Linked DNA regions of Homo sapiens: region 2 is linked to region 1. A link means that fine-mapping ties the variant in region 1 to the expression of a gene that starts in the linked region. Tissue or cell type: aorta. Region 1 holds a variant in brackets; the other region holds the start of a gene. All regions are shown on one strand. Distances are between the middles of the regions.

Region 1 (2,687 bases):
AATGAAGTACTGATATATGCCACAACATGAGTGAACCTTGAAAACACTATGCTAAATGAAAGAAGCCAGACACGAAAGGTCACATGTTATAGGATTCCATTTCTATGAAATATCCAGAATAGGTAAATCCCTAGAGACAGAACAAAGATTGGTGGTTACCAGAGGTTGAGGGGAGAAGGGAAAGGGGAGTCACTGTTAAATGGGTGTGGGGTATCCTTTTGCGGAGATAAAAATGTTTTGGAACAAGATAGAGGGGGTGGTTGCAAAACACTATGAATGCACTAAACGCCACTGGAATTATGTAAACTTCACCTCAATAAAAAAATTAGTATCAAAATTTTTGAAATTTTATGAAAAAGAATATTGCTTTCCCCTATCTTCTTTCAAGATCCTTCTAAATTATAAAGATGGCAGGGAAAGGAATCAGAACATTCTGCCCCAGAATATAACTCTTTAGCATGTTAATTATTTAGAGCTGAAGGCAACTGAGAAACAGCAGATGCAGGAAAGGCTATCTACCCTCCCTCTTTCTGCCTAAAATTAGGGCATAAATTTCCCGTGAGAAAGGCACCTTCCTGGTACCATCAGAGATGGGATAGTCAACACCAAGATGAGTTGACACAAACAAACCTTAGTAAAATAACCCTCATCTTTCATTAGTTTCCCCCGCATATTTCCTAGTCACTTTCCCACAATTTTTTACCCCTAGAAGTCTAAACCCCTTCCTTTGTGTAGTCACTTTTCCACAAGGTATTACCCTTTGTTATAAGAGCACTAAGTCCTTAACACTGCTTTTTTGAGGGTTTCACGTCTTTCCTATGAACTCCCCCACTGCCTGTTGCCTGTGCCACATACAAACATCAAATAAAATTTGTATGCTTTTTTCTTTTAATCTGTCTTTTATCAGCTTAATTCACAAGCTCCAGCTGCGGACTCTATGAGGATTTTTTACTCCTGTACAGCAACAAAGAAATTCTCCTTCAAACTGCTTTGCCAAGATTTCAAACTCCATTTAAATAAGGATTTTAAGATGAGAAAACAAAATATGTCATGGAAAGAAAAATGTCTGCATGACTGAA[G/A]ATTCCTACCTCTCACCATGCCAAGGTCTGGACACCACATCTGTAAATCTGTGACTTATTTTCACTGGAATGTAACTATTATTAACTTTCCAGATTTAGCCAACATGATGTGTGATTTATTATGAGACTATTTTTAAAGCTCTAAATAAGTGAATTTTATCAAACATAGCATTAAACACATAAAATATAATAAAAGAAAACAAAAAATTTATTTTGCCAACCAGGGTATAACTTCATAGTTCTTATTTGACTCTTTGAGAACAATATATGATTACCAACTGTAGAAGTACTTTTTTCTACTATTGGCAATCTTTCAAAGCAATTTTTGGAGAATCTCAATTAACCTCCTAAATCTAAATATCCATCAGTATGTACTGTCATTCTAAAATGGCAGGCTACTCTATATGACATGAAGTCTCCACTATGGTACTTCTGGATATTCCAGTAAATGTTGAAACTAAATTTCTTCCCCATTGCCCCTGGTGCTAATACTTGTCACTTTTTTTTTTTTAGTAGTTTTACTGATGTAATTCAAATACCATGCAATTCACCCATTTAAAGTTGTTTATATTCACAGGGTTGTACAACCACTACCACTATCCAGTTATAGAACATTTTCATAACTCCAAAAAGAAACCCCAAAATCCATTAGCAGTCACTCCCCTATCACCTCTTACCACTATTCACTCCAGCCCAATACAATCTTTAATCTACTTCCTGTCTCTATGGATATGCCTATTCTAAAAATTTCATAAAAATATAATCAACTTGATAAAGAAAAAAATAATAATCATGCACTATGTGGTCTATTATGACTGGCTTTTGTCACTTAGTGTAAGGTTTCAAGGATCTATGTTGTAGCATGTATCAGCACTTGATTCCTTTTCGAGCCAAATAATATTCATTGTAAGGACAGACCACATTTTATTTATCTATTTATCAGATGATGGTTGTTTGGGTTGTTTCAACTTTTTTGTTATTGTGAATAATCCTGAATGAACGTTCATGTACATTGAACATTCATATACATGAGCACTGTACATTAAATGAGTGAACATTTTGTTCAAGTGAGTTTATGTGTGGACACAGTTTGGTTCTCTTGGGTACTGATATCTTCACTCTTATTCGCAACCTTAGTTGGACATTGTGGCGATTTTTAATCTTGACACTCATCCTATTCAACCGATCCATCCTGCTAAATTATATGGAGGTATATGAGCTCAGGTACTACATGAGAATGTGGTCACTCTGCTGCAGTTAAGGATATACCAAGTAAAAAAGAGAATATCAAAATCTAAATTTACATAAAAGAGTTTATTAAACTTCAGGGAGAAAACAGAACTAAACATTTGGATCAATTTTTATGAATGACAAAGAATATGTTACCAAGTTCCCAATGTGAGAGATAAATACAAAATACCTGAAGAACTATGAGAGGAAGAGGAGAGGAGGAGGAAGAACAGAGTAGGGGGACAGGCGGGGGAGAAGGAGAGGAGAGGAGAAAAAAGACAAGACAGAGAAGAAAGGGGAGAGGAGGTAAGAGAAGGGAAAGAGAAGTAGTAGGTGAGAAAAGAGAGGAGAAAGGGGTGGAGAGAAGAGATGGGGGTA
Region 2 (2,687 bases), 50 kb after region 1:
ACTGCAGTCACAGAAAAAATTAGCACAGCGCCTATAACATTAGGCACTTTTGATATAAGATAACAACATTGACAGCTTATCTATAAAATGTGTGAGCTGACCTAGGTTATCCTTAAGATCTCTTCTCGCTCATATTCTATGCCCCTGTAAGAATAGGGACCAGAAATGTCAGAAAGGAGTGTCCCCTCCAGCCATCCCTTGAACAAATGACAGCCTCTAGGAGGCAATTCTTTGATGATTAGCAGGACGGGAGGCTACGCGGCCTGGGCCCTGTCCCCGTTACAGGGTGTCTCCCTTCACCTTCACCACCGCCACCCCTTATGCCAGCATTGTCTGAGCGCCTACTGGGTGCCGGAACCAGCCTCGGCCCTTGGAGGCTCACACGGACGGGGAGGGGGCAGGCAACACTCACTTGTTCCTGCGGATCCACTCGATGAGGGCGCGCACCTCGGGCACCTCGTCCAGGGCGGGGGGTTCGCCGGTGCTAAACTGGTCGGGAAAGCTTCGGTTGAGGTCGCGGCCGCGACTATTGTCGCGGCCGCTGGCCCCGGACGGGCCGCCGTCGCCGAAGCCACAGTCGCCCTCGCGGGCACGCTCGAAGCCATCGGGGTTGAGGCTGGGCAGCAGGTACACGTCGGTGGTGTTGAGCAGGCGGACCAGGCGCGGGTCCCCGCGGCGGTAGCCGGCCGCCAGCTCGCGGGCCAAGTAGATCAACACCTGGCGCGACACGGTCTCGTCGCCATGCATGTTGCCCACCAGCTTCACCTGGGGCCGGCCGGGCAGCAGCGGCCCCGCAGCGTCGGGCCCGGCAGCGTCAGGCCCCGCGTCGCCCTCAGGGATTAGCGACCCCAGGCCGGCGGTGAGGCGAAGCACCCACAGCGGCCGGCCTTCCACCGAGCGGCCGATGCTAAAGAGGCGGGCCAGGCCGGGGAGGCCCGCGGCCGCCGCCTCCCTCAGCGCCGACTCCAACTCCTCTTCGTGGTAGTAGCGGTCGAACTGGCCCTCGGCCGCCTCGGCGCCCGCGCTCGTAGTTGTGGTAGTCGCCTCCGCCTTCTTGATGTGAGCCGCCCGGGCCGAGCTCCCCAGCAGCAGCAGGCACATGAGCAACAGGAGCCGCCCTAGCCGCCAAGGCGGCCGCTCGTCCCGGCCGCTCGCCATCTTCCAGCAGCGCCGCTAACCCCGGCTCCGCTCCCGCGGCTCAGCGCTCCGGGCGGCGGGGGCCCGCCGGATCCCCTCCTCGCCTAGCAACCCCATCCCGCCCTCTGGCCGCAGCCAATCGCGGACGGGCCTGGTGGAGCGTCACCACCAGGGGGCGGGGCTTCCCTTAAAGCAGCCGATTCCCTCTGGGCGGGCCTGCCCTCCTCCCGTCCGGGACGAGTTTGGTCACTCTCTTCCTTCGCCAAGGTTCTTCTTCTCTTCTCCTCCTCCTTGTTTCGTCTTCTGCGTGTGCTCCGCTTCTCGCTTAGTCTCTTCTTTATGGCTTCTCCCCTAAATTATCACCCATTTTTCTCTGAGAACTCCTGCTAGTTCTCTTCCCATCTTTGTTGCTGCCTTTCTCAGCTGCGCTTTAATGCTTAGAACCGAGAATGGAAAGAATCAAAAGGTTCGAAAGAATCATAAGACTAGAAAAAATCAATAGGTTCGAAAGAATCTTCGTTCGGACACTCAAAGCCTTAGCCCAGTCTCCTAGGCGCCTTGTCTCCGCATCCACCCCGCCTCCGCTGGAGCCCCGCTGTCCGCGTGCGGTTGCACGGGACGCCTCGTGGGGAGGAAGGCTCGCACCTCACTAGGCGGTGCATTCATTTTTAGAGTTGCTTTCTGGAAAGGTGTCTCTTTTATGCCTAGCGGAAATGTGCTACGTAGTAGGCTCCCTTTGTGTTAATGTTGTCTATTTCTTAGGCGTCACCCCACGTTGTTTTACTGCAAATAGGTCCCTGTGTGTGCTGGCCTCGACCCTCATTAGGCAGATTTCATTTCACAGCTCACCGGCCCACTTCTCCCACCTCATCGGAGCAAGTTGTATATTTAACTGTGCCCTGGAATGACATATTTTAAAACAGCAGGTTTGACATTTCTGGAAACACTTGCTTGGCATTCCTGAACTCCTCAGTGTCAGCCAAAGATGGCAATTACAGCGTTTCATCAAGTCTAGAGAAGAGGTCTTTTAAATCACCTTTTATAGGCTTTAGTTTCTTTAGCTTGAAGAAACCCAAAACTATCCCTTAATCGAATGCGAAATTCTACCCATCTAACAACATAATCGCAATAACCGGCATTACCTTCTTTCAGAGCCAGCTATTTCAGGGCCCCTTCCCTGAACTATGACTGAACCCTACTTTAATAGAGTTCATTCATTCGTCAAGTATTTATTGAGCAACTTTTATGTCAAAGCTAGATGCTGGGAAACAATTCATTCTTCTGCCCAGTCAAGAGATTCAGTGTAGTTTGTGATAAATGCTACAACAGAGGGGGTACAGGTGAGGGAAATATCTGAACTTGAGGAGGAGGAAAGGAGGAGAGAAACCATGGAGGATGGGAAGGATCCCAGGCAGGAGGAGAAGCAAGCAAAGAAAGCCGCAGGATTTGAGAACAAATGCCTTGTGTTCTGGGAATTGCATGCAGGGTCAGGATTACTGGTGTGAAGGGGCTCACAGGCCAGTCTTCAGGGAGCACATTTGATCTGGAAG

Alleles and levels. Alleles are on the strand shown, and positions count from the first base shown. SD is a standard deviation of normalised expression in the study named.
For the expression in aorta of the gene that starts at base 1,212 in region 2, allele G in region 1 goes with a lower level than allele A (large effect, 1.0 SD a copy in GTEx).

The links. PIP is the estimated chance that this variant, and not a neighbour inherited with it, causes the effect.
Region 2: CPD starts here. The variant in region 1 is fine-mapped to the expression of CPD in aorta (GTEx, PIP above 0.99).

The regions. Positions count from the first base shown.
Region 1 is chr17:30,427,786-30,430,472 of GRCh38, reverse strand. All of the region lies in intron 7 of CPD (carboxypeptidase D), which reads right to left. Among named protein-coding and RNA genes, the nearest start is that of GOSR1, 48 kb to the left of the region's middle. The variant G/A (reference allele first, on the strand shown) is at 1,080.
Region 2 is chr17:30,377,452-30,380,138 of GRCh38, reverse strand. It overlaps CPD (carboxypeptidase D), which reads right to left and starts at 1,212. Exons shown (of 21, transcript NM_001304.5): 1 at 413-1,212. The coding sequence starts at 1,158. RefSeq lists silencers at 737-866, 1,167-1,406 and enhancers at 384-1,311, 1,457-1,626.